Linked DNA regions of Homo sapiens: region 1 is linked to region 2. Evidence: fine-mapped expression QTL. A gene starts in region 2. The other region holds a variant in brackets. All regions are shown on one strand. Distances are from middle to middle. Region 1 overlaps LOC124907725 (a long non-coding RNA gene). Region 2 holds the start of RNASEH1 (ribonuclease H1).

Evidence for each region. PIP is the estimated chance that this variant, and not a neighbour inherited with it, causes the effect. A credible set is the group of variants that fine-mapping cannot tell apart.
Region 1: its variant is the best candidate, but not a certain one, in a credible set for the expression of RNASEH1 in whole blood (TOPMed, PIP 0.50).

The regions. Positions count from the first base shown.
Region 1 is chr2:3,521,079-3,536,198 of GRCh38, forward strand. It overlaps LOC124907725 (a long non-coding RNA gene), which reads left to right. Exons shown (of 2, transcript XR_007086195.1): 2 at 1,828-3,016. It also overlaps a transcript of RNASEH1 not described here. Among named protein-coding and RNA genes, the nearest start is that of ADI1, 9.1 kb to the left of the region's middle. RefSeq lists enhancers at 7,528-7,587, 14,814-15,120, 14,921-15,120. The variant T/G (reference allele first, on the strand shown) is at 7,133.
Region 2 is chr2:3,551,915-3,567,034 of GRCh38, forward strand. RNASEH1 (ribonuclease H1) reads right to left here and starts at 6,419. Exons shown (of 8, transcript NM_002936.6): 1 at 6,219-6,419; 2 at 4,875-4,990; 3 at 230-394. The coding sequence starts at 6,346. It overlaps RNASEH1-DT (RNASEH1 divergent transcript), which reads left to right and starts at 6,472. Exons shown (of 3, transcript NR_038429.1): 1 at 6,472-7,084; 2 at 7,534-7,815; 3 at 9,403-9,836. RefSeq lists silencers at 6,081-6,180, 6,551-6,870 and enhancers at 6,271-6,520, 8,185-9,082, 12,626-12,675, 12,726-12,775.

The sequences.
Region 1 (15,120 bases), 31 kb before region 2:
TTTGCTTTTCCTCACCCTCAAGATCCAATCCAATCTATCAGCAAGTCATGTTGCTTTGACCTTCGAAACACACCGCAAATCCATTCACTTCTCTCCAGCCCAACTCTTTCTGCAGTCTTTTCTTGCCTGATGGAATTGACTACTGAAATTCCCCCTCCTCACACCGCTTCCATTTTTGCCCCAGTGCAATCCATTCTATGCACAGCACCCAGAGTGACCTTTTAAAAATAGGAGCCAGATGCCAGGCACTGTGGCTCACGCCTGTAATTCCAGCACTTCGGGAGCCCAAAGAGGGTAGATCACTTGACCAGCCGAGGCAACATGGTGAAACCCCGTCTCTACTAAAAGTACAAAAATTAGCTGGCCGTGGTGGTTTGCACCGCTAGTCCCAGCTACTCTGCAGGCTGAGACAGGAGGATTGCTTGAGCCTGGGAGTCTGAAGTTGCAGTGAGTTGAGATTGTACCACTGCACTGTAGCCTGGGTGACAGAGCAAGACTCTGTCTCAAAAAACAAACAAACAAAAAAACATGGAATCCAGTCAAGCCCCTTTTCTGCTTCAACCCTCCTTTCTATAGCCTCGGCCTGACCACCTCACAGCCCATCGCCCTCCTTTCTTGTTCTCTGTCCTCCAGATACTTTGGCCTTTCAGTGTATTTGAGTCATATGCTCCTCCTTCCTTTGGGCCCTTCACCCATGCAGTTTTTCCACTGAAAATGCTCTTCCTTCCTCCAAGTACTTTTCTCCTATACAAAATTCTAATTTCAGCTTAACTATCCCTTTCGTAGAGAAGCCTTCTCTGACCACTCCCTAGACAACTAGATGGGCTCTCCGTGTGAAACACTGCCATGGTGCTAGCTTAGAGTTTGTAAGGACATGTTGACTTGATGTCTTTTCACCAAAGGACTGACCACTCCATGTGTTGTTTGGTACTTGCTGAATGAATGGATTTGTCTGTATTGCTGAGTGCCGCATATACCTTGAGGTCAGAGAATGTGTCTTATTAGTCCTTCAGTGCTTGGTACATAGTAGACAATTTTTTTAAAAGTTTGTTGAATGAAGGGATAGGATGAGGAACACTCCAAATAGTCTTTACTGTCTTACTGTAACTGCACTCCTATCTCATATCTAATGCTTCTCATTTACTAGAAAATAGTAGTACTAGGCTGGGTGCTGTGGCTCATGCCTGTAATCCCAACACTTTGGGAGGCCAAGGTGGGAGGATCACTTGAGGCCAGGAGTTCCAGATCAGCCTGGGCAATACAGCAAGACCCCATCTCTACAAAAAATATTTTTATTAAAAAGAAAATAGTAATTGTGACAATAATAATAGTAGTGTGTGCTGGGTAACATTTTAAAGATTTGATGCATATTATTATTTTTACTCCTCATGATTACACTGTGAAGTTGGTATGACTTATTATCCACATTTTAAAGATGAGACATGGGAGGCTGAGGCAGGAGGACTGCTTGAGCCCAGGAGTTTGAGACCAGTCTGGGCAACACAGCAAGACCCCATATCACTTAAAAACAAATGAGACAACTAGGACACAAACAGGTGAAGTAACTTATGGTCACACAACCAGAAGTGACAAAGCTGGTATTTGAGCTTGGGGAGCCCAGCCCAACAGCCTGTACACATAACTGCTAAAATCGAGTACAAGAAGTAATGATGTGGGTTTCATCCCATCGTAGAATAAACTTCATCTTGAAATTGGAAGAGTGCTTCCGGTTCCCCTCCCACCCCCAGGCTGCGGCAGCCCCACACCATTATGTATCTACCATTTGTCAGCCTCTGTCTTCAGTAGCTGTTCCTTTTTTCCTATTAGGTATGGGGGAAACAGTTTTATGCCATAAAAAACATACTTTAGAAAAGCAAGATGATGGAGAGGCTCTGAGGAATTGCCAAGGCAGCCCAGCACTTGCTGCTGGCAGGAGTTCAAGCGGGCAGAATCAGATGAGAACAGCACTCATTACTTCATACGGACATTGCCGGCCCATGGGATTCCTCCTTTGAAGAGGAATCTTTGGAACTTGAACTGTCTCTTCCAGAAGAATAGCCAGCAGCAGCCCAAAAATATGTTTCATGACCAGAATTTATCACCCCGATGTAAGACACTTGGGAAGAATCTGTTTAGATGTTTTGAAAGACAGATGGTCGCCATCGCCGCAGACCTGCGCAGACTGTTATCCGTCTGGGCTTTGTGATATGCTCCCAACCCAGGGGCGCGTTAACAAACCATATAGGGATACAGTAGAGCCACAGAAGAACAGGAAGATCCAAACTGCTGGAATGTGGAACGCAGATAAGGCTCTATAGACGGGCAGCAAGTTTTCTCTGGAAAAGGCCAGATAGTAAATCGTTTAGGTTTTGTAGATCGAGTCAAAATTGAGGATAGTATGTAGGTATTTATACAACAACCACATTACAGCATAAAAACCATTCTTAGTTCATGGAACATACAAAAACAGGCAGCAGACTGAATCTGGCTCATAGCCTGGAGTTTGCCAATGCCTGCCATGCACTATTAATAATAGTTAATTTTTATCTGATGATCAAGTGTACTTTACTTCTGGCCTGTGGAAAGAACTGCCAAGAGTCGGAGATGTTTACACTCTGCAAGCTAAGAAATTAGCCTGTCCCAGATTCATGGGTGTTAACAGAAGTCAAGAGATTATCGGCTCAGAGATAAAACACAGCCTATTACTCAGGAGCAACAGCGGTAGCAGGGGCCACAGTGTCTGCAGTTTTGCACAGGTTGCTGAACGCCAGTCCCCACCAAGGGAACTTGAAAAGGGATGATACCTGCATCTTCAGTGGGTTGCATTACAGGGGAGGAACTTTGAGCTTGGGAAAACCAAAATATTTCCCTGAGTCATACTCAGCTATTCAGCAGAAATGCTTCCTGTGTACTTCCCAATTTGTCACAGAGAATGTTAGAAAGATGTCTACTCAAAGGTCAAAATTTAATAAAACCAGTCATTTTTACAGCTTCATTAAAGACATTCTTAAGAGAAGCGGGGGTTTGTTTTTGTTTCTGTTGTTCCAGTGCAGGTGTGTGAAAAACACAATGACTGCTGGTACAGTGTGTACCATGTCGTGGCTCTCTTGGGCACGGAGAGCTGAGCCCATCACTGACTTTGCACCATGAGGGCAGTGCTCAACACAGAGAAGAAGGTACATGTCATCCTGGCATTGTGAGACAAATAGTTTTGACTTCAAACATCTCCATACTGTAAGAACCACAGCTCTCATCTTTTTTGTTCAGGGTACTTTAGGTTGCAGGTGACAGAAATCCAACAAGTTGGCCAGGCGCGGTGGCTCATGCCTGTAATCCCAGCACTTTGGGAGGCCGAGGCGGGCAGATCGCAAGGTCAGGAGTTCGAGACCAGCCTGACCAACATGGTGAAACCCTGGGTATGGTGGTGCACACCTGTAATCCCAGCTATTCAAGAGGCTGAGGCAGGAGAGTCACTTGAACCCGGGAGGTGAAGGTTGCAGTGAGCCAAGATTGCGCCACTGCACTCCAGCCTGGGCGACAGAGTGAGACTCCATCTCAAAAAAAGAAAAGTCCAAGTTACCTAAGCAAACAAACGGGAACAAAGATATGTTGGATCACATAAATGAGAAGGGTTAGAGCAGAACGCACCTTGGGCATGGCAGGATTCAGGGCTGAAAGTATGTTAACAGCTCTGTCTATGTCTCTTTGTCTCTATCTTCTCCATATGTGTGTGTCTCTCTCTTCACTTAGCTTTTCTTCTCTTCTCTCCCTCTTTCTGCCCCCTTTTCTCCCTCCTGTCTCTCTTCCTCCCTCTGTCTCTCCTTCTCTCTTTCTCTCTCTCCTCCCTATCTCAACCCTCTTTTCTCTGTGCCTTGTCTGAATACTCAGCTACTAAAAAGAGCTCTCTGCATGGGTCAGAAAACAGCCGCCAGTAGCTCTAAGACTGCACTTGCTTGCAATTCAAGGCAAAAGAGCTCTGTTATGTAATGATGGGATATCCAGTCTCATGGGAGATTCCAGACTGCAAGCCCTTTAGATCTCTCTGGGAGCCCGAGGTGCAGACTCCACTACCCTGGGCCTGGCCGGGTGCCCAGTCTGGGAGGTGCTCTGCCTGGCAGCCCCTCAGCCCCACGACTGGTCAGGGAGAGGGGCGGTGGAAGGGCAGACCGACAGGCCAGACGTCCATGACAAATACTAAGCTGCCAAGGTGTCCTACTGGTGAGTGTTTCCAACAGCTTGCAAGTGAAAGAGACGAGCAAAGCTGCTCTCAATGCCACGACTTCAGGTCTCATACCCTCCTGGCTGTTCCCTGTTGAACCCAGTCTGAGTGCTGCCAGGGCAGACACCATTCTGTGGAGGAGGCTGAGTCTACACCACTCTTCCTGGGAGGGCCAAAACTGACTTAATGTCTTCTAAATGGAACAGCCTGAAGGGCTTGCTGGGAAATAGAGAAAACAGTAAGGGACCAGAGGTATGATAAATAATGGAAGACGGGTGGATGGCTAGAAGCTGCGGAGGAGCACCTGGGTAAAAAGGGTTGTTTCAGGAGCAGTTGACAGCTGACAGCTAAGAATATAGTATGTTTGCAGTGAAAGCAAGGGTGTCTCTATAAATAAGCCTGGGGTTAACACTAAGACCTGTGTAATGACAACCAGTGAGACTGTCCCAGACCCTACAAGTCAAGGAAGGCAGGCAGGTTCACAGATGATACCTAAAATGACAGGAGACTGTAATAGATTCCTGTATCAGAGTCACGCCTAGTACTGCACATGAAAAAAAACCACTTCCAGAATACCGTTCCCAATTAGGGTAGCAAGTGTTGATAATTATTGAAGGTAGGTGACAGAGGTATTTGGATGGTCAACAAACCATTCTCTTGTGTATTTCAAATTTTTTGAAAATTTTCAATTTTAAAAAAGTTATGTTATCTATAGGCCGGGCGCCGTGGCTCACGCCTGTAATGCCAACACTTTAAGAGGCTGAGGCACATGGATCACCTGAGGTCAGGAGTTTGAGATCAGCCTGGCCAACATGGTGAAACCCCGTCTCTACTAAAAATACAAAAATGAGCTGGGAATGGTGGTGGGCACCTGTAATCCCAGCTACTCGGGAGGCTGAGGCAGGAGAATCGCTTGAACCTGGGAGGCAGAGGTTGCAGTGAGCCGAGATCATGTCATTTCACTCCAGCCTGGGTGATAGACCACGACTCCATCTCAAAAAATGATAATAATAATAATAAAAAAAGTTGTGTTCTCTATAAATCAACAAGCAACCCATCTGTGCATGTAAATTTTCTTAATTGAAAAAAGGGAGTGTGGGTATGGATTTCTTCAGAAAGAAGCAGCATATTCAGAAACAGCTGCCTGGAGGACACAGTCAGCAAAATGTGGTTGAAACTAATTAAAAGGAAAACATTTCTCTTGATCTTCATACATCTTCTTTGAAGTAAAGATGGAGGTTTTTTTCCTGGGAGAAAATGCAGGCTGGTTTACAGCATTTCAGTGAATTATGCCAGACCTCCGTGCCCCCAGGATGAAATCTAACCACATGTCCATTCCAGGGTATCTCATTCTGCATTTGTCATCATCTTCAAGGTCACACTGCCCCCAAAACGTTTCCCAAAATGTGTCTCATGTCACCTAAGTTGTGAGGTGAATAGCAAAAAGGGTTTTGAGGTTAAAAAAAAAAATGTGAGAAAACCCGGTCCTAGCTCCGTCCTGGGCAGTGGGAAGGCTTGCGATGAAGACACTGTTTCAGGTAACACAACTGTTGGCTCTTAGGGCAGAGGCATCTACTGACTCCGAAAATGTTCCATAGAACATTCTTCGGTGAACACCAATGTTGGGGGCTGGGAAGGCCAAGGCAGAGAAGCAAAAACCCAAGAAGGGCGAACGACTCGAGTCGCTTTAGGAGTCGGAGAGGTGGCTCCACGCTCCTTGGCCGAGTCACCACCAGCAGGCCGGCAGCACGGGCTCCACACACCCTGACTCCGGAGCTTGGCGTCCCGGGACACAGGGAGGGCGCAGGGCTCAGAGGCGCGCCCCCCCCCCCACCCAGCCTGCACTCTTCCCCCAGTCTGCAGGGCGCCCCCCTACCACCCCCTCAAAAGAGAAAAATCACACAGGGTGGGGCAGAGAGCGTGGCACAGGGTGGGAGCGCAGTGCTGTGTGCGCGGAAGGGGGGTTGCTGGTGTGTGGTGTGTGTATGGTGTGTTGTGTGAGGGCAGTGGTGTGTGCATATGGTATGGTGTATGTTGTGTGCTGTGTGTGATGTGTGTCTGTGGTGTGTGTGGTGTAATGCCTGTTGTATATGGTATGTGTATAGTATGTTGTGTGTTGAATGTGTGTGGTATGTGTATGTTGTGTGGTGTGTGTGATGTGTCTGTGGTGTGTGTGATGTGTGTGTATACTGTGGTGTGTGTTTGGTGTGTGTAATGCCTGGTGTACGTGGTATGTGTATAGTATGTTGTGTGTTGAATGTGTGTGGTGTGTGTATGGTGGAGTGTGTATGGTATGGTGTGTTGTGTGTGTTGTGTGGTAAGTGTGGTGTATGGCGTGTGTGGTGTGACATGGGTGTGGTGTACTGTGTCTGTGGTGTGTAGTGTGTTGTGTGGGGTGTGTGGTATAGTGTGATGTATATGTGTAGTATGGTGTGTGTATGTGGTATCTGTAGTGTAGGGTGTGATGTGTGGTGTGTGTGGTGTATGTATGGTATGTTGTGTGGTGTGTTTATGGTATGGTGTATGTGTGGTGTGTGTGATGTGTGTATGGTGTGTGGTGTGTGTTGTATGTGGTGTGTGTGGTATGTGTTGTGTGTGTTGTCTATGGTGTGTGTGGTGTGTGTGCTGTGGTGTATGTGCTGTGTGTGGTGTGTGGTGTGTATGGTGTGTTGTGTTTGTGTTGTCTATGGTGTGTGGTCTGTTGTGTGTAGTATGTGTGCTGTGTGTGTTGTGTGGTGTGTGATGGGTTTGGTGTGTGTTGTGTATGGTGTGTTATGTGTGTGTTGTCTGTGGTGTGTGTTGTGTGTGGTGTGGTGTGTGGTGTGTGTTGTGTGTGGTGTGCTGTGTGGTATGTGTTGTGTGGTGTGTATGGTGTGTGGTGTGTGGCGAATTGTGTGTTGTGTATGGTGTGTG[T/G]TGTCTGGTGTGTGGTGAATTGTGTGGTGTGTGTGGTGTGTGTGGCGTGTTGTATATGGTGTGTTGTGTGTGTGTGTGTGTGTGCGCGCGCCCTTGCGTCTGCACAGGTGCTGGAGGAGCCGTCTGCGTCTGGGGAGCTTGTGGGCCGAGGCGGTGGGAGGCTGGTGGGCGGCGGCGCAGAGTCCGGAACCGTCTGCTGAGCTCCTGGCCCAGCGCTCCTCAGCCCGCGGGGATCCCACCCTCATCTTGAGCCTCTGGGGAGGACCGAGAGTGAACGCTTCTGCAGCCGGGCTGCCTGCGGCTCTCTCGGGTGTAGGGCACAGCAGCCCGATGCCAAAGCCGGGCCTGGCTGCTCCACCTCACGGGCCACCTCAGGGGGTGTGTCACACTGAGAAACGCCGCCCGCCCGCAGAGTGACGCCTGGACCCTGGCCTCTCATCACACTAAGATCCCCGCTGAGGCCTGCGCGCTGCTCCGTGACCCTTCCTTTGTGCGCATGCCCTGCACTCTGCCCACACGTGCAGGGGCATTCACCACACTGGGGAGCTCTGCGCGTCGCCCTCCTGGAGACTGCAGTGCACGCCCCTGGGGAGCCTGCGAGCCCCCGCCCCTGTGCCACCTCCCTCGTGCCCACCTTCCCGGGCGCAGCTCTAAACGGCCTTGTCGGGGAAACTCGCCCGGCCATATGTTGACTTCTAACACGTTGAGAGCCAAGAGCCACATGGCCACATGTGGACATCACTTCCTAATGACCCGCAGGACTCCACTGCAACACGGAGCTGTCGTTTATGTAAATGCACTTCTATTGTTGCTTTTTAGATTTTTGCTGTTTGTGACTTTTATAAATAATGTTTCAAAAACATTCTTGTTCATGTTTTATCCACTTTTATTATTTACTTAAGATAAATTTTAAAACGCACCTATCTATACCTGTGCAAGACACTGTCCTGGGGGGAAGTGTGTGAAGGAGACCCAGGGCCTCCTTGCACTTTTTCTGCACCTGCCTGTGAATCGATACTTATTTAAAAATACGTAGTTTTAACATCACGTTAGCTTCAACAACGAACGGTGCTGGAACAAGTGAATATCCCACAAAATACATATGCACACGAAACTTGGCTTATCTTCTTTAATTTAGCCTGAAGGAACTAATTTTCTGAATTTAAAATGCAGAAGCTGGATTTGTAGCTTGAACCTGTGGTCCCAGCCGCTCAGGAGGCAGAGGTGGGAGGATCGCCCCAGCCCAGGAGGTCCAGGCCGCGGAGCGCGGTGATCGCGCCGCTGCACTCCAGCCTGGGCCAACACCAACCACCACACCACCACCACATGTATGTAGTTGTTTGCCATGACTGTTACTGTACAAATTGTGGAAGGAAGAAATATGTACTAAAATCTCCAGTGGGACCCGCATGTCCCTACTGACAGACATTTCAAGACACCTGAAACTCTGAAGCAGTCTCGTGATGTGCGCAAAAGGCCCCCATTCTGTGTGCCTCACGCGGGGCAAAGCTCTGGGCCTGGCGGCACTGGCCACCCTGCCAGCCTCAGGATCACCCAGGGCAAAGCATCGCCCTTCACTGCCCCTGCCCTCTGTCTCCCATCTCACCTGCCTGCACTCCTCTGTGTATGGTGCCCTGGGACACAACGCCAGCGATCTCTGAACGGGCACCCATTCTCTCCCTCCAGCCCTGTCAGTCCACTGCTGTGCCCTGGCCCGGCCCCGTTGCCACCATTGCAGTGAGCCACAGGAAGGGCCCCCACCCTGGACTGGGTGGTCCACACTGCAAATGACCCCGGCCCACAGCGGGGCTTAGGCAGGCACCATTTTCTGCTGAAATGCAAGGAATCCCTTTTCCTAAAGGCCAGAAACACATCTAACTGATGGTGCTTAGCTTGGAGGCACTCACTACCAATTTATCACCCGAATGGAAAATGTTGAGGGAGTGCTAGATGAGGCCATGAGATGTGAGACTGTGTAAGCGACACAGTGTGGGGAAGAAGGAATGAGAGTATTAGTAGTAGTACTACGGGGAAGAAGGAATGAGAGTATTAGTAGTAGTAGTATGGGGAAGAAAGAATGAGAGTTTTATTATTAGTAGGATGGGGAAGAAGGAATGAGAGTATTATTATTAGTGGGGGGGAGAAGGAATGAGAGTATTAGTAGTAGTATGGGGAAGAAGGAATGAGAGTATTATTATTAGTAGGATGGGGAAGAAGGAATGAGAGTATTATTATTAGTAGGAGGGGGAAGAAGGAATGAGAGTATTAGTAGTAGTAGTACGGGGAAGAAGGAATGAGAGTATTAGTAGTAGTAGTATGGGGAAGAAAGAATGAGAGTTTTATTATTAGTAGGACGGGGAAGAAGGAATGAGAGTATTATTAGTAGGGGGAAGAAGGAATGAGAGTATTATTATTAGTAGGGGGGAAGAAGGAATGAGAGTATTAGTAGTATGAGGAAGAAGGAATGAGAGTATTATTATTAGTAGGATGGGGAAGAAGGAATGAGAGTATTATTATTAGTAGGAGGGAAGAAGGAATGAGAGTATTAGTAGTAGTATGAGGAAGAAGGAATGAGAGTATTATTATTAGTAGGATGGGGAAGAAGGAATGAGAGTATTATTATTAGCAGGAGGGAAGAAGGAATGAGAGTATTAGTAGTAGTAGGAAGAAGGAATGAGAGTATTATTAGTAGGAGGGAAGAAGGAATGAGAGTATTAGTAGTAGTAGGAAGAAGGAATGAGAGTATTATTATTAGTAGGATGGGGAAGAAGGAATGAGAGTATTATTATTAGTAGGGGGGAAGAAGGAATGAGAGTATTAGTAGTAGTATGAGGAAGAAGGAATGAGAGTATTATTATTAGTAGGATGGGGAAGAAGGAATGAGAGTATTATTATTAGTAGGAGGGGGAAGAAGGAATGAGAGTATTAGTAGTAGGATGGGGAAGAAGGAATGAGAGTATTATTATTAGCAGATGATGGGATTGCATACCTGGAAAACTCAAGGAAATTAACAGGAAAAGTGTTAAGACACAGTAGGAGAGTAAGCAGGTATTGTTACAAAACAGTGGCTTTTCCGTATAAACAAGAACAGTTTCTAACAGCCTTAATAATTGCATTAAAAAGCAAATTAAGTTGGAACAAACTTAATATGCCCTAAAACTCTGCTGCCACCCTGTGCTTCCAGCATTTGCAGAAATTTGGATACAGCGGCTCTGTTCCTTTTGAGTCCGTGCAAAACTCAGGGACACTCTTCCAAGGACAGGATTTTCTAGCTCCCCATGATTGCGTGAGCCCAGGTGTTAGGACCAGCCTGGGCAACATAGAGAGACCCTGCCTTTACAAAAAATTTAAAAATTAGCTAGGCGTGGTGGTACACACCTGTAGTTCCAGCTACCCAAGAGGCTGAGGTGGGAGGATTGCTTGAGCCCAGGAGTTCAAGGCTGCAGTGAGCTATGATTGCTCCACTGCACTCCAGCCTGGATGACAACGTGAGGCCAAAAATAATTTCAAGAGATCATCATTAAAAAGCTGTGGGTGGGAAGTCTACAGCTATTTTAATTATAAACCTGATAGGAAAAAGTTACGTTTCCAGAAGCTGCTCATTAAATGTTTTGAAGAGTGTTTATTTGGAAGTTGTATCCAAGTTTTCTACCTATGGTCTTTGGTCTTCCCTAACACTTTGTACTTTATTTGTGCTATAAGTACAATTGTTGTAGAAGCCCAAATACCAGGTTCATGTACCTGCCGTATAGCTGAGGCCGAACACTGCGACATAGGTGTCTGGAGACAGAGAAAGGTTTATTCCATTTGGCCAAAGCAAGAAGACAAGACAGCAAGATTTCTCAAATCCCCTTGACAAAGAGATAAGGAGAGGGTTTTTATGCAGCTGACGAGTCAGGGAAGGGGAGTTTTGGGGAATGGAGGGAAAGTCCGTGTGTCTTCCGTGTCAGCTAACACTTTGAGCAGCCAGACCTCCGGGTGTCAGCACCTGGTCGCAGCACTTTCAAGGCATTCACTCCGTCTGCAAACATTTCTCATGACCCTCATGTTATCTCCTCCCGTTTGACAAAGAAACAGTAGATCAGCAGTTTATAATGATGCTGTGGGAACAAGAAATAATGGGTACAAAGCGAGTGGTTCACAGGTGCCAGCCAGAGAGGGCCCGATCAGAACGTTCATTATTTCAGTCACTCACTGAAACATGCTGAGTGCTGAACTCCCAAGGGGCCCCGTTACTCAGCCTCGCATCCCTTGACTGGGATAGGTTCTAAGGAAGGTGTCCTTAGGTGATTTCACACCCCTAGATGGTACAGCCCACTACACACCCGGGCCACGTGGCACAGTCTATGGCTTCTGGGCTATAAACCTGTACAGCAGGTCACTGCTCTGAATCCTGCAGGCAACTGTCACACAATGGTAAGGATTTGTGTATCTAAGCATAGGAAAGTTACAGCAAAAACACGGTATCATCATCTGACGAGGCCCCTGTTGAATATGCAGTGCATCATTGACAGAAATGTTGCTATGCAGTGCATGATTGCATGTAAAGAATTTAGTGAAAGTGTTCACTGAGGCCCAAAGAGATGCACCCAACAACGCCCTCCATTTGGCCCTGATGTGCTGTAGAAATCATATTTTCTAGCCGTACCCTGACATTATAAAGGCTGGGAGGCACCGCACTAAGGGGCATGGAGGCGCTCTCCCGCGCAGACAGGACTGATGGAGCTGCTCACCCTTCGGGCAGAGCGAGGCGAGAACCCAGGCCTCTGTGCCCACAGAGAAGCCGATCGTGCTGCCTCAGGGGAAGGGAAAGGACGCATAAAATGTCACCCGGGCCTTTTCTCCAAAGAGAGCCGCGAGGCTTGCTCCTTCCTCACACTGCCCTCTCAGAGCTCACCTCTCCTGGCACAGCCTGGTGCCAACAAACATCTTGCAAGCACTGACTGAGCCCCGGCCAGAAGTCTGGTTCTGTTCCAAGAGCTGGGAACCAAGAAGGGAGCAGAGAGATAAAACTTCTGCCACAGGGAGTTTATTTTCTAGGTAGGGAAACAGACCAAAATACATGCAAATAAAACCAGCGGAAAGCAGCCCACTGATGTGCTGGTCGATGTCTCACAGCAGCTCTGGGGGATGGCGGCCCCTGACCTGCAGCACTGGCTGATTTCTGCGGTGTGAGTCCTCCCACTACAGCCACCTCCAAACTCCCTGTGTGAAGGCACTGACCACGGAGTGGGGAAGGGGCCTCACTGCTGGCCCTCCTGGGCTGCTACGAGTCGGCTCAGGCACACCTGAGAGTTCCACAGTGACAAGTTACAGGAGAAGGAAGGTGAGCCAGGAGTTGCAATGTTTATGGGGAGAGATACATTTATGGGGAGAGATACGGGAGGTGTCACTAAGAAAGTGCCATTTGATGGCAGAGCTGCTGTGGAAAACAGGATGCCTGCTCCTCCAAGAGCCAAACAGAATGACCACATGACCCCGCAATCTCCTCTCCACGTACCTCCCAAAGAAATGGAAAGCAGGGACCCAAACAGGCAGGGGCACTCCCCTGTTCACAGCAGCATTCTTCACAAAGCCCAAGAGGCAGAGACAATGCAGGGTCCGTGAATGACGACTGGATAAGCGAAGCGTGGTCCCTCTGATAGTAGCAGAAGACAGATTCCTAGGCAGACTGGGGCAGGTCCCCAGTGAAGCCCGACCTTCAAGCCAAAGATAGCCTGAAGCTGGAAAACCAAGCTGCCAGTTCCAGGTTAAGTCCACGACCTTTTAGCCAATCGAATGGTGATTTTTTTCTAGGCCCGCCCATGGGCCAATCAGCACACACTCCCCCTTTCTGAGCCCATAAAAACCCTGGACTCAGCCACACAGCAGGGACTACCACCTTTGGGTAGAGACTACTCACCTTCAGGTAGTGGCTGCCCACTCTCAGGTCCCCTCAACGCTGGGAGCTGTTCCATCATGCAATAGAAGTTTTTTTCTGCCCTGCTCACTCTCTGGTTGTCTGCATAACCTTATTCTTCTGGATGTGGGACAAGAACTTGGGACCTGCAGAACAGTGGGTGTGAAAAAAGGCTGTAACACTGTAACCCTCCCTCCTGCTTGCTGAGCAGTGGAGGAGAAGAAACTGCTGGCTGCCACACACCCGTTTGCTGAAGTTGCGGGCGGCAGGAATGAACTAGAGCTATGGTGCTTCCCAAGAGCCCAGACATCAGACTCCCTGAACCAGGGCTGTAGCACGCCCTGCTCGCCAAGTCACAGGTGGTGGGAACGGTTGAGCTGTGACACCCTTGGGGCTCTGCGGTTCCTGGTGTCTCTGAGTTTTGGGTGCCACCACGTTCCCCTCATCCAGACACCGGTGCCCAAGGCAGAAGCGGGTTGCGGCATGCCCGGCCCAACCGCCGGCTGAGCGCGGATCCTGTGGCAAGCGTGGGATCTGGGCCGGGGTGCAAGCCGAGCACAGCCCACTGGGCCGAATGTGCAGAGTATCACCAGCAGTGATCCTTGGGCCGAGTGAGGCCAGGCAGGGGCGCCAGCGGCCATGGAGGTCTCCGGCTGGTGAAGTGGCACAGAAAAAATCCTGTGCCACATCCACACAATGGAGCATTCTTCAGCCTTAGAAGGAAGGGAATTCTCACACCTGCTACCATGTGGAGGAACCTTGAGGACATTAGGGTCAGTGAAATAAGCCAGGCCCAAAAGGCCAAATCCTGCATGATTCCATTTATACGGGGTCCCTAGAGGAGTCACATTCATAGAGATGGAAAGCAGAACAGTGCTGCCAGGGGCTGGGGAGTCCGTGTCCAACACGAACAGAGCTTCAGTCTGGGAAGATGAGAAGTTCTGGAGATGGAGGGTGCTGATGGTTGTACAGCAGTGTGAGTGTACCTAATGCCACTGAACTGCACACTTAAAAACGGCTAAGATGGGCTGGCCGCAGTGGTTCACACCTGTAAGCCCAGCACTTGGGGACGGTGAGGCAGGCGGTTCACCTGAGATCAGGAGTTCGAGACCAGCCTGACCAACATGGCAAAACCCTGTCTCTACTAAAAATAAAAAAAAAAATTAAAAAGCCAGGCGTGGTGGTGTGTGCCTCTAGTCCCCAGCTACTTGGGAGGCTGAGGCAAGAGAATCACTTGAACCCAGGAGGCAGAGGCTGCAGTGAGCTGTGATTGCACCACTGCACTCCAGCCTGCGTGACAGAGTGAGACTATCCTGTCTAAAAAAAAAAAAAAAAAAGGTTAAGATGTTAACTTTATGTTATGTATATTTTACCATAATTTTAGAAATCAATTTTTTACAAAGAAAGTTCCATCTGAGTAAAGCCCAGGCAGTGGAACAGCAAAGCCCCTGAGGCAGGAGGTTCCCAGCACATTGAGGAACGGCAGTAAGAGCCGCATGGCTGGAGTTGGCAAGTGCAGGTGAGGTGTGGGGTGGGGACAGGGGGACACCTGTGGGTGTGGGGGAGGAATTTGCATTTTATTCTGAGAGGGACAAGGAAGTCACGGGAGGGTCCTGAGCACAGCAGCGACGTGATCTGACATGGTTTGAAAGTGCCATCCTGGCTGCTACCTGGAGAGGGAGGAGCTGGGGGAGAAGGTGCGAACCCACCAGGAGCTCTGCACTAGTACAGGCAGGGAAGGACGCAGCCTGCAGTGGAGGTTAGGGCTGATCAGACTAGAGATGTGTTGAAAATGGAACCAAAAGCCTGTGCTGGCAAACTGAACAGGGTAGGACACACAGCGGGGTCCAGGCGTGAGCACTGTCGGTCCCGGCCACGAGAGAGCCAGCACCAGGTCCTGTACTGACCACAGACACGTCACTGCCCCAAGACAGGGCGGTCGTGTGCTGCTCAGATGGTTAAAACAGAAAAAGAACATTGCCAGCAGAGGGAGGGCCCAGAGACTAGAGCAGGATCTCTCTGCCTCTTACTTTACACATTAGAGAAAGGAAAGGACTTGTGGAAAAATACTAATTTCATTGCACTCACA
Region 2 (15,120 bases):
TTACAGTTGTTCATTTACATGTAAGGGTTTTCCTAAGAACATCCAAAAGTTTAATTCTGCACTACTTGATTATAAATAATGGCCTTAGTGATTTCTAAATAATCTTTACACATAAGAATGAAGATGATAAACACCAGCTCAAACTCCCCCCATCAAGTGGGAAACACCTTTTACACATAACATTTTCCTGACTGTGGTATTAAAATCTGAAAACCCAAGGAAGATGTACCCATGTAGGAAAACGTGTCTCTGCTAACTGGAGGCGCCGGCTCCACGCTCGGCTTCATGTGCTTTGCATACGGCTCTGCGCTTTCATGTCCATCTCCATCCAGTGGCTCACGGAGTCGCTTGCTGGCTTTCGCCTCCGATTCTTGTCCATGTTGATTTTCATGCCCTGAAAGACAAGAGTCCACTCGTGAGCTGGAAACAATGAACATAACACGAAATGCTAGAGAATGAAGACATTCAGTAAATTATTTAGTATCATTAAATCAGACTTAAAAACACCCTCTCTATGTGGCCCTACAACGAGGGAAACGAGGGAATGACCCCCTCCACGCCATCTCCACCCCCTCCACGCCATCTCCACCCCCTCCACACCACCTCCACCCCCTCCACACCACCTCCACCCCCTCCCCTCCACACCACCACCACCCCCTCCCCTCCACACCACCACCACCCCCTCCCCTCCACACCACCTCCACCCCCTCCACAGCATCTCAATCCCCTCCACAGCATCTCAAGGGGCTCTTTCTCCAGGAAAAACATGGCCCAAAATTGTGTATATAACATCAGTGGTGTTGCTGGGCGCAGTGGTGTGTGCCTATAGTTCCAGCTACTCGGGAGGCTGACATACGAGTATCGCTTGAGCCCGGGTTTGAATCCAACCCGGCCAACATAGTGAGACCCCTTTGCTTAAAAATAGATAAATCTAAAAAAAGATGAGTTGTGTCCATGGTTCAGCCTCTCCCTGCCTCAAATACAACTACATGGACACGAAGTTAAGAACCCCTAGGAGGGCTCAGAGGGTGCAGGTTCATCTAGCTTGAATAAACAGATAATGGGACATATTAAGAAAGGAAAACAGGGCTGGGAAGCCGAGGCGGGCAGATCATTTGAGCTCAGGAGTTCAAGACCAGCCTGGTCAACATGGTGAAACCCTGTCTCTACTAAAAATACAAAAATTAGCCAGGCGTGATGGCGGGCACCTGTAATCCCAGCTACTCAGGAGGCTGAGGCAGGAGAATGGTGTGAACCCAGGAGGTGGAGCTTACAGTGAGCGGAGATCGCGCCACTGCACTCCAGCCTGGGCGAGAGAGTGAGACTCTGTCTCAAAAAAAAAAAGGAAACAGAAACCAGAAACTAAAAGGAAGCAACTGGGTCCCTTCAGGGTCAGTACTCTTGCAGCTTTTCTTTTGCAACAAAGTTTTTCTTCTGCAACGAAGTTTTTCTTCAGGGGGACCTCAAGGTTAATCCCAAATAGTTTTTTTTTTTTGAGACAGAGTCTTGCTCTGTGCCCAAGCTGGAGTACAGTGGCGCGATCGTGGCTCACTGCAACTTCCACCTCCCTGGTTCAAGCAGTTCTCTGCCACAGCCTCCCAAGTAGCTGGGATTACAGGCACCCACCACCACACCCAGCTAATTTTTTTGTATTTTTAGTAGAGATGGGGGTTTCACCATTTTGGCCAGGCTGGTCTTGAACTCCTGACCTTGTGATCCACTGCCCTGACCTCCCACAGTGCTGGGATTACAGGCGTGAGCCGCTGCGCCCGGCCCCAAAGAGATTCTTAATACCACCTCAGGGTTATCTGGGAAGGGCCCATATCTCACTCACTGGGTAATACTATGGCAGCTGAAGTAGAACAGCTAAATTAGACCAGGACTCAAAAAACCAGTTTCAATTTGTGCTATACCTTTTATCAGCTGCGAACTCCGTCAACTGAATTAAACCCTCTGGGCTTCTGTAAAACGAGGCCCTGGGCTAGATGATCTCAAACGACTTTTCCTTACATGGAGTGAAAATAAGGACACAGGAGCAACCAACTACCTGCAAACTAACAACCCTAACCCAACACTACAGGATTCACCTCCAGCTCTCAACTCCTAAACCAGGGATGGAGAAATGGGGCACGAACATCACAGAACGCCTACTAGAAAGGAACAAGAAAATGTCCAGCCTAGTGGAGCTTCTCAACCCACACCTCTCGGAACCCTAAGGGCGCCGGGCAACACTTGACTGTGATCAGCACGACGTCAGCAACAGCTGGCGTTTCCACTGCCACATTTTGTTTTCACACACTCATCTCCAAAACGTTCCTCTAGGTACTCTACTGAAGTAAATGCAGATACTGTGGTCCAGGTTAAAGTGTCATTTTGTAGAACCTTAACACGGATATAAACACTGGTTTTACTTACTATAACAGAGATGGACACTTTACAGAACAGATAAGACTTGGAGGAAAAAAACACACTTGTCAGTTAAGTTTTACTTCACAAAATTGTGGTTTTTAAGTAAATTAACCTTAAATCAGCTTATATAAACCATAAGAACCAGTAAATAGCTCAATAATTCTAAAATAAGGATAAATGTAATGTTAAAAAACAAAAAACTGTAAAAGGGGCTAAGACTTTTTGATACAGATCTGAATCATTAAAGGCACTAAATCTCAATTTATAGACGTAAGTCACTGACTAGGAGGTCTCTAAAGTTTAAAGAAGTAGATTCAAAAGAACTAGCTTGCTTTAAGAGTCAGAGTACTTAATAAAAACAGAAACATACTTATATTGGAAGACTTGAGATACAAATAAATTACTGATTGGTTAAAAACAAAAAATTTGTGAAAAGGAAAACTGAAAAGGAAAATTAAGAAAAGGAAGTATCAGGAACCCAGCAAAGAAGGAAAAAGCCATATTTTCAAACCTGCTTTCTGTCTCAAACTGATTTTTCCATCTGGGTAGAAAAATGAACAGCTGTAACAGCGAGGAGGCGGCTCAGCATTACTGCCTCCATTCTCCCTTAACATCCCCATAGTGGTATCGTATAGGCCGAGTGAACTATGGGAAGAATTTATAGTTTAAAGCAAGGATGACAGTGGTCCGTTCCCAAAACTAACCCCCAAGGAGATAAAGAGGGAGTACACACAAATAACAATGTTATGTTGAAGACTTATAGGAGGAGCATCATGGCCTGACCAAGGACAGAGAAGTTTCACAATCCCCTTGGACCCTCGCTGCCATCCAGATGTCTGTGCTCATCGGTCTCCTCCTGATCTCACCTCCGCCTTTCTTTCCCCTTCCCTTAACATAAAAGAAGTCTCAAGTTCTATTAACTTAAGATGGTTCTTCAGGACACTAGTCCACCATCTTCTTGACTTGCTGGCTCTCGGAAAAAAGTCGCCTTCCTTGCCCCAACACCTTGTCTCTCAGCTTATTGGCTGTCATGCAGTAAGCAGTAAGAACTGTCACATCGATGAGCCTTTTTCACGTGTCCTCATTCTCAAACAGAATCTCCTTTAAAAGCTATTGAAGAGAGAGAGGGTGAAGCAGATGCACTGAGTGAGGGTCGACCCTGCTTTGCAAACTAACTCTTCAGGGATCCATTCTGGACACAACCTGCCTCGCTCTGAATTGTGCTTTGTCCAGGATTGTTACGATGATTCGAAGGAGCAGTTGTTCAGGTTCAAGCATCTCAGTGGCCTCTAGAGAGGCTGTTCAAGATAAGGTAATTAAAACTATGCTCTGCTCAGTCTTAATTTGCTATAGTAAAAAGTTTGTAAGTAACATTCACGTAAGATCACCTCCTCAGTGTAGATCCAGAAATATTTTTAAAATCTTGCGCTCTAAAGTCGTCACCCTGCTCATCTGAGTCTGCATAATGGGCTTTAAACTTCCAATTATATTGGGAATTAATCTTATATTGGGCTTTAAACTTTGAATAACCGTACTTTCTATAACACATAAAATTGGAAGAAATTGGACAGGCGTGGTGGCTCATGCCTGGAATCCTAACACTTTGGGAGGCCAAAGCAGGTGAATCATTTGAGGTCAGGTGTTTAAGACCAGCCTGGCCAATATGGTGAAATCCCATCTCTACTAAAAAAAATACAAAAATTAGCCGGGCGTGGTGGCACGCACCTGTAATCCCAGCTACTCCGGAAGCTGAAGCAGGAGAATCGCTTGAACGCAGGAGGCAGAGACTGCAGTGAGCCAAGATTGTGCCACTGCACTCCAGCCTGCGCAACAGAGACTCTGTCTCAAGGAAAAAAAAAAAGAAGAAATTCAGATTGTGTGACTCTGTTCTCAATAAAAAGGCAACACCACAAAGGGGCATGCCATGGAAAGAACCACACTCATTCCTGTAAACTGTAGCCCATCCAGTCCAATAACTATGTAAGTTTTTTTTTTTTTTTTTTGACGAGTCTTGCCCTGTCACCCAGGCTGGAGTGCAGTGGTGCAATCTCGGCTCACTGTAGCCTCCACTTCTCGGGCTCAAGCAATTCTCCCACCTCAGCCTCCCGAGTAGCTGGGATTACAGGTGTGCGCCACCATGCCCAGCTAATTTTTGTATTTTAGTAGAGATGGAGTTTCATCATGTTGGCCAGGCTGGACAAGTATTTTTTTAAAAAAAGACAAGGAATTATGGCATAAAAGGCTGAATGGAACAGGAGAGCTGAGTCCTGGCTTATCCCTAATACTGTAAGTAATATGAACCACTATTTGTAACTGCTTTCAGTCTGTTCCCTAATTTGTAAAATGAAAACAATCACACGAGGTTCCCTACATGCCTAGAGGGTAGCTATATAGATCAAATGCCATCTGGCATATGAAAGCCTTTGAATAGGTTAAAATGTCACACTGATATGAGAGGTGACTACCTTCTGAAACTTCCGGGCTTGCAGATTTCCTGACAAAGGCCCAGGCCTCATCCTCTGTGGCAAACTTCTTAAATCTGGCAGCAGGAAACCGGTCCACCTGTGCTCTGCACTCATTCCTGGAAAAGATGTGCAATGTTATTTCCTTCTTCCTTCTCTAACTTATCCCCTTTTTTATTGAGATTCTTAAGGTTGGAAATACAGTTGTCCCTTGGTATCTGAGGGAGACTGATTCCAGGAAGTCCTCCACCCCATCACAGATACCAACATCAGAGGATGCTTAAGTCCTTTGCATAAAATGGTGTATTTGCAAATAACCCACACACATCTTCTTGCATGCTTTAAATCATCTCTAGTTTATAATACCTAATACAATCTATATAGTTGTATTGTCTTTTTATGCGTATTTTAAAACTGTATTCTATTTTAATTTTTTCCAAATATTTTTGATCTATGGTTAGCTGAAACTGAGGATGCAAACTGGATATAGAGGACCAATTTTTGCGTGAAAAGGGCAGAGTCGCACCTTATAGTTTTATCCTGCACGTCAGACTCTACACCTGTGTTCTACTGTATGCCAGCCAGCCAGCACACCAGCACCATAAGGCTTTCGTCAAACTCAAAGCATAACAAAATACTGCGGTCTTTGAAAAAAATATTAACCATTTCTTTACAACAAAAAGGTCAACTTCTGAGATGCTTCTTCCTCAATACTGTAGCTGCCGTGCATGGGGAAACACAGGTAACGAACTTTGGTATCTTGTAGTGGGAAGAGTTCTGGTGGTACAGTCAGAACAGCTGGGCTCAAGTCCTTTCTCTGTCAGTTACATGCCCTGGGAACTTCCTGACCCCAAGAACTATACCTGAAAGTGAGAATAATCCCTCTCACCTCCAAGGGTTGTTACAAGGATCCAACTGCAAATACTGGCTTATTAGAATTTGCCTTTTTTAAAAGGGAAGATTAGGTACTGAGTTCCAATCCCAATTTAGCTGGTACGGAAAGTCTTCTGGTAACGGGGGTTCGTTCTGATTACGTGTCACTTTTTGTTGCACTTTAACTGCAACAAAGATGGAGGATTAAACACAGGGTTTATTAGGCCACCCCTAACCTTTACGCGACGTTTCTGATATTTCAAACAAGTCTTCGGTGCGTTCCAGTCCCAGGCCATGAGCCTCCTGGAACCCCGCCGGCCGAGCAGGAAAACGAGGCGGTCCCCCGACCACCCACAGCCACAGCGCGCGGCACAGACTCGGACCGCCAGGCTCCCGCCGCCGGGGTTAGCCGGGCTCCGGCCTCCCTCGACCCCGATGCCGGCAGGGAGGCGCCTCGGCGGGCGGGCCACTCACCAGGTCAGAAAGACCCCGGTCTTGCGGCCCCTCCTCACGGCATAGAACATCCCGAACCCGCGAGAGCCGCGGCGGCAGGGCAAGGCGGCCAAGGCGACTCTGTGGGCCAGGAACAGAAGCCAGCTCATCGCTCACTCCCGGCACCGGGAAGCATTTCGACTCCCGGCCCAGCGTGGGCGCGAGCCGCCGGCGCTCAACACCGCACTTCCGTCACCGGCGCGGGAAGATGACGCACGTCTGGGCGGAGTCCTGATGAGGGCCGGGGCCTAGGGAGGGGCGGTGTCGTAGGGCGGAGCCCGGAGCTCGGCCCCTGACGAGCCCGAACTCGTCAACTTCCTGTCGGTACTTGAAGAAGCGGAGCCAGGGCTGAGATCCCGAAGGCGGGCGAGGTCTGGGATGGGGCGGGGCCTATGGGAGCGGGGCTGAAGCCCTGGGCCCGGCAGAGGAAGGTCGAGATGGACCATGTTGGGCCCCTTCTCTCCCCGCCCCCAGGCCGCAGTTCGGGGGCCACGCCCCGGCGTGCTCGGGTCACCGCGGGAAGCCCTTGAACCCCCTGGCGCCCGGCACCCACGTGCGGTAACCGCGGCTCCTCGAGAGCTCCAGGGATGCGGATCTACAGTAAGGGCTGTGGCCAGATGAATGAATGCACATTTTTTAGTGGGCAGAAAGATGTTAGAATTCATGAATTAGAATAAGCACAAAGGAGGGCGAGAGGGGAGGCCGTGGAAGCCGCATTCCTCCCCTTGCCTTGGGCGCCCACCCCCGAAGGGGCGCGTCCCCTCCCTGCTCCACTGCACGTGGGTGTTTAACCAGGGGATATCCAGTGCCTCAAGCACCACGACCCGGGAGAAAACTGAGTTGAGAAGGTAACTTTTAGAATTCTCCCCATTTGACCTTTTGCTCTGTAAGCAAATCAAGTAATTTTAAAAGTGTTCATGGGTTGGAGGGGCGTGGTGGCTTACGCCTGTAATCTCAGCACTTTGGGAGGCCAAGGCGGGTGGATCACCAGGTCAGGAGATCGAGACCATCCTGGCCAATATGATGAAACCCTGTCTCTACTAAAAATACAAAAATTAGCCGGGCGTGGTCGCCTGCGCCTGTAATCCCAGCTACTCAGGAGGCTGAAGCAGGAGAGGCGCTCGAACTCGAGAGGTGGAGGTTGCATCTGGGCGACAGAGCGTGATTCCGTCTCAAAAAAAAAAAAAAAGTCTCCATTGGCAAACATTGTTATTCGAATTATTTTTAAACCACTTTTCTTTAATTTTCTTAAGGTCTTCTAACAAGCCTTTTGCACACCTGCCATGTATTTTGTCAGGCCTTGGGGATGAAGGTGAGAAATTCGAGAATCCCCGGAGATAACACATCAGCAAATAGTGCGCAGGCAGAACAAGCTGTTGGAGGTGAGAGACACAGAGCAGAGAAGCACCCGCACCTGGAGAGTCAGGAGGGCCTCACATCAGAACGCCTGAGCAAATACAGTTTTGAAGGATACTAATTTTTTAAAAAGTTCATTCACATGAGTTAGACAAAGAGAAAGAAGCAGGACATTCTAGGAAGAAGGAACGGCCCAGGCAAAAGCGACGCGTACATTGGCGTGGTAAGTTGTGTTCCTCTGTGAAATCGAAGAACATCTTTTTTTTTTTTTTTTTTTTTTTTTAAACAGAGTCTTGCTGTGTCGCCCAGGCTGGAGTGCAGTGGCACGATGCACGATTGGGGCTCACTGCAACCTCCACCTCCCGGGTTCAAGCATTTCTCCTGCCTCAGCCTCCCAAGTAGCTGGGATTACAGGCGCCCGCCATCACGCCTGGCTAATTTTTATGTATTTTTAGTAGAAACAGAGTTTCACCATGTTGGCCCGGCTGGTTGCGAACTCCTGACCTCAAGTGATCCGCCTGCCTCAGCCTCCCAAAGTGCTAGGATTACAGGCATTAGCCACTGTGCCTGGCCAAAGAACATCAATTTTAAACATTTCAGCTTTCCTAATTTTAATTTAAATTGGCCATAGCTTTCATTCCTCATTCCTACCTATTGCACTTCAAGACGGATTCTTATTTTAAAATAAAAAGACACACACAGCTGTCCCTAAAGTCCATTTATGACTGATCATCCTACCCTTGTGTAGATATCTGAGGAAGCCCAGAGATGCCCGGGAAGGCTCTCAGGATGACCTGACAGCTGCCCCCACCTCGTCAGCATATCTGAGGGTTGACCTACCAAGGGCTTGCTTTTCTGTGCCCACTGGCTGGTCCTGTATCACAAGGACTCATCTTCCCTGAGAAGTCCTAGGTTGGAATTACCTGAGGACGCTTGCAGGATCATCCACATGACTTTCCACAGTGCCAAAACCCTCTCTCTTCCTTCTTCCTTCCTTCCTTCCTTCCTTCCTTCCTTCCTTCCTTCCTTCCTTCTTCTTTCCTTCTTTCGTCTTTTCTTCCTTTGTTCTCTTTTCTTTCTCCTTTCTTTCTTTCTTTTCTTGTTTCTTTCTTTTCTTTCCTTTTCTTCTTTCTTTATTTTCTTTTCTTTTTTTTCCGGGTCCTACTCCAACGCCCAGGCTAGAGTGCAGTGGCATGATCTTGGCTCACTGCAACCTCTGCCTCCTGGGTTCAAGCGATTCTCCTGCCTCAGCCTCCCGAGTAGCTGGGATTACAGGCATGCGCCACCACGCCCAGCTGATTTTTGTATTTTTAGAGACAAGTTTTCACCATGTTGGTGAGGCTGGTCTTGAACTCCTGACCTCAAGTGATTTGCCCACCTCGGCCTCCCAAAGTGTTGGAATTACAGGCATGAGCCACCACGCCCGGCTGCCAAAACTATTTATTTTGACTTTTCATTGACTGGTTACTCCTGAAAATCTTTTTTTATCTTAATCTCTGGCTCATAGAAATATAGGACATTTCTTATCCTGAGCAAACACTGGATCAGAAATCAGAAGATGAGTGTATATGTGGTCTCAGTCACTTAGCTCCTTTGAAACTTAATTTTCTCTACTGAAAAAAAAAAATGGGAGTGATAATTCCCACTGCAAAAGGCTTTTGTTTTGAGGATGAGATTTTAGATGAAATAATAAATGTATGCATAGCCTATTCCTGACACATGACATAAACTCAAATAAAAGTCACTATTGCCATTATCTATTATACTCTGTAAATTAGGAATAACAAAACCATTTCTGCTTATTTCTCAGGGTCCATTCAAGAATTGTGCCCACAATATACCAGGCACTTGTCCAGACCTGCATCGTCCAATGCCCACCTCGACCTCCCAAAGTGTTGGGATTAGAGGCGTGAGCCACCGCGCCCTGCCTGCATGTGGCTATTGAGATGTGCTGTATGATACACACCGGACTTTGAAGACTCAGTGTGAAAAATAAAAAGAATTTTAAGAGGGGTGGGGGTCGAGGGGAGGCAGAGCAGTAGGACAAATAGCTAATGCACGCAGGGCTTAAAACCTAGACAACAGGTTGATGGGTGCAGCAAACCACCATGACACATGTTTATCTATATAGCACCTACATGTTCTGCACTTGTATCCTGGAACTTAAAATTAGAAAAAAAAAATAATAAAAGCCAACATGGCATTCATTACTGCCAAAAAAATTAAAACACATTGTTAATTTTGTATATTGATTACAGGTTGAACTGATAATATTTTGAATATATTGGGTTAAAGAAATACATTTAAAATTAGTGGCTAGGCACAGTGGCTCATGCCTGTAACCCCAGCACTTTGGGAGGCTGAGGCGGGTGGATCACCTGAGGTCTGGAGTTCGAGATGAGCCTGGCCAACATGGTGAAACCCCATTTCTACTAAAAATACAAAAATCAGCCGGGTGTGGTGGTGAGTGCCTGTAATCCCAACTACTTGGGAGGCTGAGGCAGGAGAATCGTTTGAACCCGGGAGGTGTAGGTTACAGTGAGCCGAGATTGTCCCACTGCACTCCAGCCTGGGTGACAGAGTGAGACTCCATCTTAATAATAATAATAAAACTATTTCTTGCTGTTTTACTTTTCTAATGTGACCACCAGAAAAGTTTAGATGGCTTGTGTGACTCTCATCATTGAACGGAGCTGTTCTAAACATGGGTAAGACAACGCAGAGCTTCGGTTGCAGGACAGAGAATGAAATAATAGACCCATAAGACAGATAAGTGACTGATTGTGACTGCTAGGGTGTTTACAGCATAGGCCGGTGACAGGAACGAGGAGTGTGGGGATGAGAGCCGACGTGGGCGAGAGTGCATGCAATGCAGGGTCAGACGTTGGATTCATCTCTCAGGAGTTGAAAAAGGTGGCGTTCCTGTTCTTTATTGGCATTGCTTGTGACACGAGGATTGCCCCTCTTCCTGAAGAGGTTGGTCAGGAAAATTTTTTGTTAACTTTTATTTTAGGTTTGAGGGTCCATGTGCAGGTTTGTTTCATGAGTAAACTCATGTCATGGGGGATGGGTGTACAGATAATTTCATCACTGAGGAATAAGCCTAGTACCCGATGGGTATTTTTTCGGATCTTCTCCCTCCTCCCATCCTCCACCCTCAGGTAGGCCCCGTTGCCCACCGTTCCCCTCCTAATATCCCTGTGTTCTCGCTGTGGAGCTCCCACTTATAAGTGAGAACACGCGGTGTTTGGTTTTCTGTTTCTGCCTTAGCTTGCCTCCACCTCTATCCATAGTGCTGCAAAGGACATGATCTCGTTCCTTTTTTATGGCTTCATGGTATTCCACGATGTAAATGTACCACATTTGCTTTGTCAAGTCTACTGTGGATGGGCATTTATGTTGATTCCACATCTTTGCTATCATGAATAGTGTTGTGGTGAACATACACCTGCATGTGTCTTTATGGTAGAACGATTTAGATTCCTCTGGGTATATACCCAGTCATGGGATTGCTGGGTTGCATGGTAGTTCTGTTTTAAGTTCTTTGCAGAATCACTATGCTGCTTTCCGCAATGGTTGAACTAATTTGCACTCTCAATATTATATTGTCTATAGCTGAGAAAGCTGAAATGTAAAGATTAAGTCACTTGTCCTCAGACATGTAGACAGGAAGTGGTACAGCCAGGACTCAAACCTGCCTCCAGAGCCCGTCCTCCTAAACCTAAGTCATGGTTTTCAAAGTGTGGTCCTTGGATCAGCAGCAAAAGCACCACCTGGGCACTCATTAGACATGGAAATTCTGGGCCTCAACCCGGACCTCAGCATGGGAATCCCTGGGGGTGGAGCCCGGCGGTTTGTGTTTGGGCAGCCCCAGCTGACTCTGAGGCACCATCAGGTTGGAGGCCACAGTGGGTGATAGTCCCTGCCCTGTGGTAGCAGCCGGCCTCCCTCCTTCATTTCTGTTATTCCATCTCCTTCTTAAAACAACCCTGTGAGGCTGGCAGGGCAGATGTCGATTTTATTTAACAGATGAAGAAACTGACCCTTGAGGTTTTATGACTTACCCAAAGTCATCGCATTAGTTTTGGAACTGAAACTTCAATGGCAGATCTTCTGGCTGTTAGTCTGAGACTGGAACTAGTACCCACAAGGACTCTGGGAGCAGTAAGGTCAGAGCAGGAGCTACTGCTTCATTTCATTGCCTCTAGTGAAGGAGGAGGGGGGTTCCCAGAGCACGGCTTCTCCATGGGTCTAGCCCATGATAGCTGGGTGCTTACCCTGATGTGCTGATGAGATTCTGCCTTATCTCCTGCAAGCCATTTGTGCTGTGCTAGGATTAAACAGTACACTTTGGAACCTTAGCTGCCCACACCCTGAGAGCCAATCACGCAGAACCCACAGGAAATCTCGGGGCAGAAGTAGTTTGCCATAAATGTCCATTTTCTCATTTTTTGTTGTTGTGACGGGGTCTTGCTCTGTCGCCGAGGCTGGAGTGCATTGGCGCAATCATAGCGCACTGCAGCCTCAACCTCCTGGGCTCAAGTCATCTTTCCACCTCAACCTCCAAAATAGCTGGTATTACAGGTGTGCGCCTCCTGTATAATTAAAAAAAAAACATGTTTTGAGGCCGGGTGTGGCGGCTCATGCCTGTAATCCCAGCACTTTGGGAGGCCAAGGCGGGTGGATCATGAGGTCAAGAGATTGAGATCATCCTGGCCAACATGGTGAACCCCCGTCTCTACTAAAAATACAAAAAATTAGCCGGGCGTGGTGGCAGGCACTTTTAATCCCAGCTACTTGGGAGGGTGAGGCAGGAGAATCGCTTGAACCTGGGAGGTGTAGCTTGCAGTGAGCTGAGATCACACCACTGCACTCCAGCCTGGGCAAAAAGAGTGAAACTCTGTCTCAAAAAAAAAAATGTTTTGAGGTTACAGGGAGCTATGATCACACTACTGCACTCCAGTCTAGATAACAGAGCGAGACCCTGTCTCTGAAAAAAAAGAAAAAAAATTCTTTGTAGAGACAAGGTTTCACTATATTGCTCAGGCTGGAATCAAACTCCTGGCCTCAAGCAATCCTCCTGTATTGACCTCTCAAAGGGCTGGGATTACAGGCGGGAGCCACTGTGCTCAGCCTGCATTTCCTGATGCAACTCGTTCACATTCCATCCATTATCAACAATCCCCACAACTTCACCTCCTGCCATGGATGCCTGAGGCTGGGGAAGGGGAACTTCATTCGGGTGTGGGCGTCACCTTAGCCACAGAGAACCTAAAAGAGTGATCAAGCCTCACCTGAGGTTGGGAGTTCGAGACCAGCCTGACCAACATGGGGAAACCCCATCTCTACTAAAAATACAAAATTAGCCAGGTGTGGTGGCGTGTGCCTGTAATCCCAGCTACACGGGAGGCTGAGGCAGGAGAATCGCTTGAACCCGGGAGGCGGAGGTTGTGGTGAGCCGAGATCGCGCCGTTGCACTCCAGCCTGGGCAACGAGAGTGAAACTCCGTCTCGAAAAAAAAAAAAAAAGACTGATCAAGCCGACTGAAAGTCAGGGTGCTCTGTTATTATAACTGAGCACCGGGAATTCTAAACACTGTCAGTGATAAATACTCTTCCCAGAAAAAAAACTTTCTTGTAATTATATGTGTATAATTCCATTTTTATCCCTAATCTTTTAACAAACATGTCTTACATGGGAGTTAATCCCAAGGGCTCCCAGCTATGCACTTGGTTCCAACACGTCTTCGTTCAGCCACAAGAAGTTTATTTGGTTCAGAAGCAGAGTGCTAGCTTCAGGCACAGTTTGATCCAGCTGATGGGCACTGCAACCTCCTGCATGTAAACAGCAGGTTTGAAGTGAACCGTGGTAGCACTATGACTATAAAGACAAACGAGGAGAACTTGCTTTACTTCACTTCATTCCATGTGATCACTTGTGCTTAAAATTTGAATCAGTGAAACAGGGCGGTGGGAACCGCAAGCTGAAATATTTTTGTTATAGTGTGGATTTTAGCTCATATATTACACATTTTACTGAATTCAAATAATGTCTTTAAAATTGAAATTTAGCCAGGAGTGGTGGCTCACGCCTGTAATCCCAGCACTTTGGGAGGCCGAGGCGGGATTTCGAGACCAGCCTGGCCAATATGGTGAAAACCTGTCTCTGCTAACAATACAAAAATTAGCTGGGCGTGGTGGCACGGGCGTGTAGTCCCAGCTACTCAGGAGGCTGAGGCAGAAGAATCGCTAGAACCCGGGGAGCCGAGATTGGGCCACTGCACTCCAGCCTGGGCGACAGAATAAGACTCTGTCTCAAAAAAATATTAAATAAATAAATAAATAAAATACAATTGAAATTTATTTTTTTTGGCCAGGTACGTTGGCTCATGCTTTGGGAGGTCAACGGAGGAGGATTACTCGAGGCCAGGAGTTTGAGACCAGCCTGGGCAACATAGTGAGATCCTGTCTCTACAAAAAAATTTAAAAATTAGCCAAGCGTGCCTGTGGTCCCAACTTCTTGGGAGGCTGAGGTGGAGGATTGCTTAAGCCTGGGAGGCTAAGGCTGCAGTGAGCCGTGACTGCACTACTGTACTCCAGCCTGGGTGACAGAGTGAGATCTTGTCTCAGAAAAAAAAAAAAAAAAAAAGGAAAGAAATTTATTGTTTTTTAAAAGTGTAATTGTTGGGTTTTTTTTTTTTGAGATGGAGTTTCACTCTCGTCACCCAGGCTGGCGTGCAGTGGCGCGATCTCGGCTCACTGCAACCTCCACCTCCCGTGTTCAAGTGATTCTCCTGCCTCAGCCTCCCCAGTAGCTGGGATTACAAGCACACGCCACCACGCCCAGCTCATTTTCGTATTTTTAGTAGAGATGGGGTTTCGCCATGTTGGCCAGGCTGGTCTCTAACTCCTGACCTTAGGTGATCTACCTGAGGCCTCCCAAAGTGCTGGGAGTGCAGGTGTGAGCCACCATGACCTGCCAATTTTTGGTTTTGAAACCGAAGAATAATTAGGAAAATGATGATTATTCCTATTACATGATTATAATTTAAAATAGTTTTGTTGAATGGATACGGGTGCTGAAATAATGCATTCTGGGTATCAAATGGATGCTTGGAGTGGATGGATAGATTGGATACCTGGTCCCTCCAAATCTCATGTTGAAATCTGATTCCTGGTGTTGGTGGTGGAGCCTACTGGGAGTCTTGGGGTCATGTGCCTCTTGGTGCCATCCTCTTGTCCCCTCGGGAAGGAGTGAGTTCTTGCTCTGTTAGTTTTTGCCAGAGCTGATGTTGAAACGAGCCTGGCACCTCCCGCACTCCTCTCTTCCTTCCTCTCTTGCCATCTGATGCCAGCTCCCCTTCCCCTTCTGCCATGAGTGGAAGCTCCCTGAGGGCCTCACCAGAAGCAGATGCTGGCGCCATGTTTCTTGTACAGCCTGCAGAACCTTGAGCCAAATAAACCTCTTTTCTTCATAAGTTACCCAGCCTCGAGTATTCCTTTATAGCAACACAAACAGGCTCGGACAG